Linked DNA regions of Homo sapiens. The protein of the gene in region 2 purifies or fractionates together with the protein of the main gene of each other region. This does not show direct contact. Each region holds a gene or a part of one and is shown on either strand. Other genes may lie near its edges. The genes, in order: LONP1, GCAT and MCCC1.

The links.
Region 1: the proteins of GCAT (region 2) and LONP1 purify together in Homo sapiens (affinity purification with mass spectrometry; 3 studies listed by BioGRID and IntAct, with this or other methods). This does not show direct contact.
Region 3: the proteins of GCAT (region 2) and MCCC1 purify together in Homo sapiens (affinity purification with mass spectrometry; 3 studies listed by BioGRID and IntAct, with this or other methods). This does not show direct contact.

What each region holds. Positions count from the first base shown.
Region 1 is NC_000019.10:5,713,403-5,717,149, reverse strand, and holds part of LONP1 (lon protease homolog, mitochondrial isoform 1 precursor), read left to right. Parts: intron 1-2,878; coding exon 2,879-2,967; intron 2,968-3,747. UniProt on the Homo sapiens protein: ATP-dependent serine protease that mediates the selective degradation of misfolded, unassembled or oxidatively damaged polypeptides as well as certain short-lived regulatory proteins in the mitochondrial matrix.
Region 2 is NC_000022.11:37,810,837-37,814,583, reverse strand, and holds part of GCAT (2-amino-3-ketobutyrate coenzyme A ligase, mitochondrial isoform 2 precursor), read right to left. Parts: intron 1,698-3,747; coding exon 1,596-1,697; intron 1,308-1,595; coding exon of another isoform or gene 1,122-1,307; coding exon 975-1,121; intron 1-974. UniProt on the Homo sapiens protein: Pyridoxal phosphate (PLP) dependent enzyme, which catalyzes the cleavage of 2-amino-3-oxobutanoate to glycine and acetyl-CoA.
Region 3 is NC_000003.12:183,097,489-183,101,235, reverse strand, and holds the start of MCCC1 (methylcrotonoyl-CoA carboxylase subunit alpha, mitochondrial isoform 1 precursor), read left to right. Parts: upstream 1-1,739; 5' UTR 1,740-1,795; coding exon 1,796-1,884; intron 1,885-1,992; exon of another isoform or gene 1,993-2,748; intron 2,749-3,747.

The DNA.
Region 1 (3,747 bases), on a different chromosome or scaffold from region 2:
AAAGAATAAATCATAAGTGTTAGAAGTATTAGTTTCTTTTAAAAACTAACTTCGTGGGCTGGGCGCGGTGGCTCACGCCTGCAATCCCAGCACTTTGGGAGGCTGAGGTGGGCGGATCACGAGGTCAGGAGATCGAGACCATACTGGCTAACAAGGTGAAACCCCGTCTCTACTAAAAATACAAAAAAATTAGCCTGGAGTGGTGGTGGGCGCCCGTAGTCCCAGCTACTCGGGAGGCTGAGGCAGGAGAATGGTGTGAACCCAGGAGGCGGAGCTTGCAGTGAGCTGAGATCGCTCCACTGCGCTCTAGCCTGGGCGACAGAGCAAGACTCTGTCTTAAAAAAAAATTGCTTCCCTCCTTTGTTCAGGTGTGCTCTGCTCTCGCCATTGTTCCATCTGCGAGGAGCACCCTTTCTTCAGAAAGTAAAATTGTCTTGCTAAGAAAACTTTTTGTCCAAATGCTAATTTTTCCTTACAGTACAGAGGTACAAGCGTTCTGTCTCTAAACAAACATTTTACTTATAACAGTGGGTCACACACCCTCCTGTCAGATGTTACTGACTTTTTTTTTTCTGGGAACAGAAAAAAAAAAAATTATGTATCTATAGTGTCAGGAATTTCTGGACCACAAGTTAAGAGCCTGTGTTAGGGAGTGAGTCAAAACACTGGCTCTCAAAGGATGGTTGTGGACCAGCAGCATCGGCATCATGTGATGCTCTTTTGTTTGAAATGCAGATTTTTGGACCCACCCTAGAACTGAATCAAAAACTCCAAGGGTGGGGCCCAGCAGTGAGCTGCTTAAAGTCCTTCAGGTCATCCTGGTGCCTGCAAAAGTTTGAGGGCCATTACTATATATATATATATATATATATATATATATATATATATATGTATATTTTAACTTTATTATATAATAAAGAATTAAAAACTTCAAAAAGAAAATAGAGATGGGGTCTCACTGTGTTACCCAGGCTGGTCTCAAACTCCTGGGCTCAAGCGATCCTCCCACCTCAGCCCCGCAAAGTGCTGGGATTACAGGCATGAGCTACCATTACCAGGCTAGCCAGGCCATTACCTTTAATCAGGGTCTGTCCAGTGAATTAACAAAGGCTTGAAAGAAATCAGGTGAGCTCCTTGCGCCTTCAAATGCTTCTTAGAAGACATCATTAGCCCTGAACCTGCCGTTGAGAATGTGCTGTGATCCTGGGGGTCTTGATCATTAATGAACAGCATATGATGTGATAAGGAAGTAACTGTCAATGAAAATTGGAGGAACCAGGCATGGTGGCTCATGGCGAAACTCCGTCTCTACTAATAATACAAAAATTAGCGAGTGCAGTGGCGTGTGCTTGTAACCCCAGCTATGTGGTAGGATGAGTTGGAAGAATCGCTTGAACCTGGGAGGTGGAGGTTGCAGTGAGCCGAGATTGCACCAGTGCACTCCAGCCTGGGTGGCAGAGTGAAACTTTCTTTTTTTTTTTTTTTTTTTTTTTTTTTTTTTTTTTTATGAGACAGAGTCTCACTCTGTCGCCCAGGCTGGAGTGCAGTGGCGTGATCTTGGCTCACTGCATGCTCCGCCTCCCGGGTTCACGCCATTCTCCTGCCTCAGCCTCCCGAGTAGCTGGGACTACAGGTGCCCGCCACCACGCCCGGCTAATTTTTGTATTTTTAGTAGAGACGGGGTTTCACCGTGTTAGCCAGGATGGTCTCGATCTCCTGACCTTGTGATCTGCCCGCCTCGGCCTCCCAAAGTGCTGGGATTACAGGCGTGAGCCACCGCGCCCAGCCTGAAACTTTATTAAAAAAAAAAAAAAAAGGAAGTTATCAATCTCTGGAGTGGGTCACATTTAAATTACTTATGTTTATTCTGACATTAATAAAAGCAGAATGGTTTTGATTTTCAAACCAAGACAGTTTGCCCTGGACATCCCCTTTGAAGCTGGATGTTAAATCAATTTCTGGGTTCTGACCATTCGTCTACTTTGAATTTCCTTTGGGAGTGGGGAAACCGCTAAGAAGAATCCAGCTGGTCAGTTCTGCTCACTGTATTCACCACCACAGCCTCCTGGCCTCCAGCACTTTTTTTTTTTTTTTTTTTTTTTTGTTTAGGCGTTCCCAAACCATGTTGATTAGTATCCAGGATGCGGATCAGCATGTCCCCAGAGAATAATCTACACAGCGTTAGAGCGGCTCTGCTGTCAAAAAATGTCAGCTACAAAAGCTACCCTGGGAGGCCGGGCGTGGTAGTTTACGCCTATAATCCCAGCACTTTGGGAGGCTGAGGTGGGTGGATCACGAGGTCAGGAGTTAAAGACCATCCTGGCCAAGATGGTGAAACCCCATCTCTACTAAAAATACAAAACAATCAGCCGGACCTGGTGGCGGGCGCCTGTAATCCCAGCTACTCAGGAGGCTGAGGCAGAGAATTGCTTGATCCCGGGAGGCGGAGGTTGCAGTGAGCTGAGATCATGCCACTGCACTCCAGCCTGGGTGACAGAGCGAGACTCCGTCTCAGAAAAAAAAAAAAAAAAGAAAAGCTACCCTGTGCTGCGTTTGGTGGCTCACGCCTATAATCCCGGCATTTTGGGAGGCTGAGGTGGGTGGATCACCTGAGGTCAGGAGTTCGAGACCAACCTGGCCAATATGGTGAAACCCCATCTCTACTAAAAATAAAAAAATTAGCCAGGTGTGGTGGTGCATGCCTGTAATCCCAGCTACTCAGGAGGCTGAGGCAGGAGAATCCCTTGAACTCAGTGGGGGTGGAGGTTGCAGTGAGCTGAGATCACGCCATTACATTCCAGCCAGGGCAACAGAATGAGACTCTGTCTCAAAAAAAAAATCTACTCTGCATTTCACTTTGGGGTCATTGTCATGCTAGGTTAAAAATAAGAAGTTGGTTGAGCTGCTGAGAAGGAAAGTTCGTCTCGCCCAGCCTTATGTCGGCGTCTTTCTAAAGAGAGATGACAGGTAAGTGTGATTTTTCCTTCATTCCCTTGTTGACGGTGCCCTAGAGTCCAGCTCACCACAAGTCCTACTCTGTACTTTGCACCTTTGACCCCTGACCCCGAGGAAACCAGGGAAGACCTCCAGAATAAAGGCCAGAAGCCACGCAGGCTACCTTTTCAGCCTGGGCTGAGAACTCAGCTTGTAGTACTAAACTTCATGCATTGTTAAGATACGGGGGAAATTAACTTCAGGGACTCTTAGTGATGAAATGCTCCATGAGGCTACCTGAAAGTCGAGCTAGCTGCTCGGAGATGTGGCTCCATGTAGAAATGAGTTCCATGGGCCGGGCGTGGGGTCGCACACCTGTAATCCCAGCACTTTGGGAGGCTGAGGCATGTGGATCACCTGAGGTCAGGAGTTCCAAAGCAGTCTGGCTGACATGATGAAACCTCGTCTTTACTAAAAATACAAAACATTAGCCAGGCGTGGTGGCAGGTACCTGTAATCCCAGCTACTCAGGAGGCTGAGGAAGGAGAATCGGTTGAACCTAGTAAGTGGAGGTTGCAGTGAGCTGAGATTACACCATTGCTCTCCAGCCTGGGCAACAAGAGCGAAACTCCATCTCAAGAAAAAAAGAGTTCCATGCATGCATTCGAAGCAGGCTCTGTGATAGCATAGAAGAGACTCATCAAAGTCCCACCTGGACCATGTCTTTGTGGCTGACTTAGCGAGGAGCCACCCACCCGGTCCTGTGACCACTGGGGCAGCCCTGGCCTGGCAGAAGCTCCCCTAGGCTCTGGA
Region 2 (3,747 bases):
TGTCTCAAAAACAAACAAACAGGCTGGGTGCGGTGGCTCATGCCTGTAATCCCAACACTTTGGGAGGCTGAGACAGGTAGATCACCTGAGGTCAGGAGTTCGAAACCAGCCTGGCCAACATGGCTAAACCCCATCTCTACTAAAAATAGAAAATTAGCTGAGCACGGTGGTGTGTGCCTGTAATCCCAGCTACTCCAGAGGCTGAGGCAGGAGAATCAATTGAACCTGGGAGGCAGAGGTTTCAGTGAGCTGAGATCACGCCATTGCACTCCAGCCTGGGCAAAAAGAGTGAAATTCCATCTAAAAAACAAATAAATAAAAAACTGGGTGTGGTGGGCACCGGTAGTCCCAGCTACTCAGGAGACTGAGGTGGGAGGATCGCTCGAGTCCAGAAGATTGAGGCTGCAGTGAGCTATGACTGCACCATTGCAATACAGCCTGGGCAACAGAGTGAGACTGTCACACATACACAGGGAAAAACCTCAAGGCACCATGGCACAATGGAATAATGCTCTGGTGCCAGGCACAGTGGCTCACGTCTATAATCCCAGCACTTTGGGAGGCCTAGGTGGGTGAAATCAACTGAGGTCAGGAGTTCGAGACCAGCCTGGACAACATGATGAAACCCCGTCTTTACTAAAAATACAAAAATTAGCCAGGTGGGGTGGCGGATGCCTGTAATCCCAGCTACTTGGGAGGCTGAGGCAGGAGAATCACTTGAACCCAGGAGGTGGAGGTTGCAGTGAGCCGAGATCACACCACTATACTCCAGCCTTGGCGACAGAGTGAAACTCTGTCTCAGGGAAAAAAAAAAAAGAATAATGCTCTGGGTGTGAGGGATCTGGGTTCACATCTTGGACAAATCTCTGCTGTTTCAAACTTTCAGGCTATCTCTGTGAGTGAGGAGTTGGCCTCTCTAAGCCTCACTTCCTTCCCCAGGCGGAGGCTGAGGGTGGACCCAGGCGTCGCCCCACCTGGGCCTCCTGCAGCTTGGCTTCTAGGTCGGCCATGTCCAGGTGGCGATAGCGGTACTTGTGGGCCTTGCACAGCCGGATGCCGTCGATGATGGAGGCATGGTTCAGCTCGTCCGACAGGACTGCGTCCTCTGGGGTCAGCAGGGCCTGGAGGGAGGCAGTGAGCGTAGAGCCATCATTTAACCACCCTGGGCTTCTCCCTTGACCGGGACTCCAGCAAATCAAAAAACTGTACTGCCAGCCAGGGCGCTCCTCTGGGTAGAGAGGCAAGGTGTTCTGTGCTTCTCTCTGGGGCCCCCGTGTCTCAGTGCCGGGCTGGACCAGCGCCCTGCTCTAGTAAGAGGAGGTGAGAATATATTTGGTGAGTACCAGGCCCCCGCCTCCCCCAGCCTTCCAGCTGATGTAGCTTATCCCCCAAAGGCTCTGGAACTCAGGCTCCCTGCAAGCCCCAGGATTCCTCCTGGAGCACCTACCTGGCCCAACCTTGACCTCCAGAAGCGGGCTCTGGAGCCTCTAGGCATGGCACTGAATCCTGCTAGGTTCTCCCGACTGCCCACACCCAAGCCTTCCTCAGCCTAACAGGCCCCACCAACCCTCACCCGCAGGACAGCTTCCACACACCTCAAAGAGGCCGGCGTTGGCGTCATAACAGCTGGGATAGAGGATGGCATCCTCCCGCTGGTGGAAGCGGGCTATTTTTGCTTCTAGATTCTTGTGGATGCTCTGAAGAAAATGAGTGAGACACGTGTTGATGCCTGTGGGGTCATGTGGGACAAGTTCGAGGGGACAGAGGCTTGGAGGACCACAGAGACCCAACCCAGAAAGCCTGCAGCCTCAGTCTCCTTACTTTCTGCCACACATGGGCTATCCCAGAGCTGCCAGGAATCTGACAGACAGTTCCCACTGAGGAACTGGGGACCTGTTAGGTTCCCTCCCTGGGCAGACTTTGGTTTTACAGTGGCAGTCTAATGGTGGAATTACGGGCACTCGTGGAGAAGAAAGATGTGTCTTCCTAACACCATACTGAGTGTCTTTTTTGGTCGCCTAATGGTGAAGAAAAAGATCACAGAGGTAATTCTGGGTTCACCTGGGCCTCTAATTTGTAAATTTGAAAACTGTTGGGTCTGGGTGAGGGCTTTGCTGGGAAGTGACTGGATGCGAGTCAGGAGTTCTGCCTCTGACATTCATTTCACTCTCACCTTTCTGAGAGGGCAGTTAATGATAATCACAAGTAGTCAGGAGCACAGACTCTTTCTTTTTTTTGGCAAATGAGACAGGGATTCTCTGTCACTCAGGCTGGAGTGCAGTAGTGAGACCATAGCTTACTGTAGCCTTGAACTCCTGGGCTCAAGTGATCCTCCCAACTCAGCCTCCCCTCCCTAGTAGCTGGGACTACAGGTGCGCACCACCACACCCAGCTAATTAAAAACATTTTTTTTTTTTTAGAGAGAGGGTCTTGCTATGTTGCCCAGGCTGGTCTCAAACTCCAGGCATCAAGTGATCCTTCTGCTTTGGGCTCCAAAAGTATTGGGATTACAGGTGTGAACTACCATGCCCAGCCAGCATGGACTCTTGAGCCAGGGTTCAAATCCCACAACAGGCTGTGTGCCTCTGGGCAAGTCACTTAACCTCTCTGGATCTCAGTGTCCTCATCTCAATAGCGGGAATAAGAATAGCAACTATCACTTAGGATTAATGAGTTAATACTTGTAATGTTCTTTTTTTTTTTTTTTTGAGACAGAGTTTCCCTCTGTCACCCAGGCTGGAGTGTGGTCGCACCGTCGTGGCTCACTGCAACCCCTGCCTCATGGGTTCAAGCGAGCCCGGCCAGCTAATTTTTGTATTTTTAGCACAGACAGGGTTTCACCATGTTGGCCAGGCTGGTCTTGAACTCAGTAATCCACCCACCTCGGCCTCCCAAAGTGCCTGGATTACAGGCATAAGCCACCACGCCTGGCCAATAGTTGTAATTTTCTTAAAAGAATTCCTGGCACATAATAAGTACTATTTAAGTTTCATACTTATATAAATTTATTTTGTAACATTTGGAAAATAAATAATAGCCAACATTCATTGAGCAGTACTATGTGCCAGGCTGTTCTATGCTTTTTTTTTTTTTTTTTTTTTTTGAGACAGAGTCTCACTCTGTTGCTCAGGCTGGAGTGCAGTGGCGTGATCTCAGCTCACTGCAACCTCCACCTCCTAGGTTCAAGCGATTCTCCTGCCTCAGCCTCCCAAGTGGCTGCGATTACAGGCACCCACCATCATGCCAGCTAATTTTTATATTTTTGTAGAGAAAGGGTTTCGCCATGTTGGCCAGGCTGGTCTTGAACTCCTGACCTCAGGTGATCCGCCTGCATCAGCCTCCCAAAGTGCTGGGATTACAGGCATGAGCCACTGCGCCCGGCCTATTCTAAGCATTACATGTATTAAGTCTTTAATTTGTAATGATCCTATTAAGTGCTATTATCTTCATTTTCCCTATGAAGTAATTGAGACAGAGAAAAGTTAAGATACTTGCCCACAGGAACAGGGACACTAAAGGGCAGCACTGGCAACTGTGCTCCCGTCAGAACAGCCCCAGAGCCCTTAGTCTCAGTTCCTGCCGCCTACTCCTCTTTTCTTATAGAAGGTCAGGTGTGAGGGACTCTGTTTTGCAGGTGGGAAAATGAATGCTCAAAAAGGCAGTTTCCACTTTGGAAGGCCAAGGTGGAGGAGATCACTTGAGGCCAGGAGTTCAAGACCAGCCTGGCCAACATGGTGAAACCCCATC
Region 3 (3,747 bases), on a different chromosome or scaffold from region 2:
GCAGGGGGTGGCGCTCATCGGGGAGGCTTGGGCCGCACAGGAGCCCATGGAGTGGGTGGGAGGTTCAGGCATGGCGGGCTGCAGGTCCCGAGCCCTGCCCCGTGGGAAGGCAGCCAAGGCCCGGCGAGAAATCGAGCGCAGCGCCGGTGGGCCAGCACTGCTGGGGGACTCAGTACACCCTCCGCAGCCACTGGCCCGGGTGCTAAGTCCCCCATTGCCCGGGGTCAGCAGGGCTGGCTGGCTGTTCCGAGTGCGGGGCCCACCAAGCCCACGCCCACCCGGAACTCCAGCTGGCCCGCAAGTGCCGCACACAGCCCCAGTTCCCGCTCGTGTCTCTCCCTCCACACCTCCCTGCAAGCTGAGGGAGTGGGCTCCGGCCTTGGCCAGCCCAGAAAGGGGCTCCCACAGTGCAGTGGGGGACTGAAGGGCTCCTCAAATGCCACCAAAGTGGGAGCCCAGGCAGGGGAGGTGCCGAGAGCAAGCGAGGGTTCTGAGGACTGCCAGCACGCTGTCACATCTCAATGGGGGGTTACAAGACATGAGCCACAGCACCCAGCGTAGTTAATATTTTATTTAGAATTTTTCCACTGATACTTACATGTGAAATTGGTCTGTCGTGTGTGTGTGCGTGATATCTTTGTTGATTTTGGTATCAAAGTTATGTTTACTTTTTAAAAAGAGTTTGGAAGACTTCCATCTTTTTTGTGCTCTGGGACAGAATTAATAGCATTTGAGTCAATTACTCATTTGTGTGGAATTTTCTTGCAAGACATGGAGGGCTTTTGTAACTTTTAGGGGTGAAGGTGAAGGTGAAAGTGGGCCATGGTGGTAGCAAGGATAGTTCTTTGATAAACTTCTCTATTTTTTCTGTGGTAACGGTTTGCTTAAATTTTGTCTCTTCCAGGATCTATTTTGATAAATTGTATTTTCTTGTAACATCATCCATTTCATCCAGAGTTTTAAGTTCACTTGAAGTTAAGCAAAATTAGCATCTTACAAATCTATAATTTGTTTCCTGTGTCTGTGATTTTCCCCTGCTTGTTTTTTAAATCATGTCAAATGTGCATTTTTCTCTATTTCTGATTAGATAACTATTTTATTTTTTGTGAACCTGTGGGTTTATTAGTCCTTTGACACTGGTTTCCTGAATTCATTTATTTATTCCTTTATCTTCCCTAATTTCTCCCTCCTGCTTTCCTCATGAAGCATCTACATGTAGTGTTTACAGTTTCTTTATTCTCTAGATGTTCCTCAGTTTGCTCTTTGACTTCCTCTTTTTCCCAATAGTCAGTTAGAATACCTGTTTTAAGCTCAGGTGGTTTAAAGATTTTCACTTTAGCTTATTTATTTTTTCATCCCTGAGAGCACTAGAGAATTGTGTATCCTGCTGTCCATCCGCATTTGGCTTCTTCCCCAGGGTTCTTCTCCCAGAAGGTGACGAGAGCGAAGAAACCCCACGGGATGCAGGAAGAAACAGTGACAGGCAACCAAGAGGGGGAGGATGGAGAAAACCCTTGCCTTAGTCAGAGCAGGCCCCAGGGGACGCAGAAACAAAGGCCACACCCCCACGAGCACGTGGCCAGACTGCCCAATCGTCGCTACTGAAGCCGGGCTCTGGTCTTTGATTGGTGTTCGTGGAGACGCCCTCACATTCTTGGATCAGCCCAAAGGTAGGCTCAGGCTCCGACGGTGGCCGGCGGGGGTCACGAGGCTTCGTAGTGGAGGAACGGGTTTGGCGTGTGGGACGCAGCTGCCTCTGTACTGGGGAGTCACGGAGTGGCCGGGCTCCAGGGACATGGCGGCGGCCTCTGCGGTGTCGGTGCTGCTGGTGGCGGCGGAGAGGAACCGGTGGCATCGTCTCCCGAGCCTGCTCCTGCCGCCGAGGTGGGTGGAGGGGCCATGGCTCAGTGGGCAGAGGCGGGAGCGAGGGGTGCACGGACCCGCGTGAGCGGTGGGAGGTGCGGCGGAACCCAGGGTCGGTGTGGGGAGGACGGTAGGAAAACCCCAGGCACTTTCGGAGGGGTTCTGCCGGCAGTCACGGCGTCGGGAGGAAGACATCCCCACCAGCCCTTCCCTTTCTCCCCGCTTCCGCACATCCACGCTTCAGCGCGCCTTTGGCTTCTGTTTTTCCATTTCTGAGGACTGGGCCCGCCATCCTCCAGGCTCCCCTCGCCGTCGCTGCAGCTCGTAGCCGTTTACATCGGGCTTTCGCAGCACCCCTTAGGTGGGAGCGTTGTTATAATCCGGTTCCGGGGAAGCCCAAAGGGATCAACGACTTCCTCAACGAAACACAGCTAGTAAGAAATGGGGCCGGGATGCCCTCAAAGCCATTTTTCAGTTCAGCTGTGCCCCATCAGGTGTCCAGTTCAGAGAAAGACTCCTGGAGTTCCTTCTCATTGTTAGAAGAGTGAAGTTGTCAAGAAGAGCAAATGTACCTTCCACAGAGCTGGGAAATTATTTTGTCAAAAACTCTTGTACCCAAGTTTGAACAACGCTATCAGATGACTCAGTCTAGCTCACCTGACTCCAGCTCTGTTTCAAATTTTGAGCTCTAAGCTTTGGTGGCAATAACTCTGGCAGTGAAAAAACCCTCAGGCTTGTAGATAGCTTTGCTTCTTTGTCTTCTTTTGCTTCATCGTTATCATCCTTCATCATTCTGGAAAGATTGACAGTTTAGTGTTCAAGGGCACAGACTCTGCAGTCAAGGCTGAGGTCTTAGTTAGCTACTCACTAGGTGTGTGACTTTGGGTAAGTTACTTAATATTTCTTCTTTAATTTCCTCACCTTGGAGATGATACGAGTACCTTGGGTTGTGAAAACTAAATGAATTAATTCATGGAATGAGGTTTAAGCACAATCTGGTACATAAGATCAGTCTATAAATGCAAACTCAACCATTTATATGAACGTTTGCTTGCTTTTATTTTCCAGAAATATTGTAGATGCCCTTTTTAGTTACTTAATTGTAGGAGTGCCCCAGAGAAACATAAGAAAGTTGTTGGAAGTTGGCGGGGCGCGGTAGCTCACGCCTGTAATCGCAGCACTTTGGGACGCCGAGGCGGGCAGATCACGAGGTCAGGAGATCGAGACCAACCTGGATAACACGGTGAAACCCCGTCTGTACTAAAAAATACAAAAAATTTAGCCGGGCGTGGTGACACGCGCCTATAGTCCCGCCTGTTAGTCCCAGCTACTCGGGAGGCTGAGGCAGGAGAATGGTGTGAACCCAGGAGGCGGAGCTTGCAGTGAGCTAAGATCACGCCACTGCACTCCAGCCTGGGCGACAGAGTAAGACTCCGTCTCAAATAAAAAATAAAAAAATAAAAAAAAAAGTTGGTGTAAGTAATGTTAATGTTCTTCTTGTTCTTCTGGTTTTTCTTTTCTTAGGCCTCCAGGGCTCTTCAGGATAGTACCATAGACCCATTTCCTGTCTTCCCTTTCAAAGCTTAGCTATTGTCTAAAGAACTATCCTCAAGTATGTCACTCTGGAGAGTGTTAGAGTTGTTAATGGCTTATAGAAGTAAAACTCTTTGCCAGGAGACTTGGTTCATGCCTGTATTTTCAGCAGTTTCTCAGCACTGTGGGATCCAAGGTGGGAGGATTGCTTGAGTTCAAGAGTTCAAGACCAGCCTGGGCAACACAGTGAGGCTTCATCTCTACAAAACATTAAAAAATTAGCCAGGCGTAGTGGCACACACTTGTAGTCACAGCTACTTGGGAGGATGAGGAGGGCGAGGACGGCCTGAG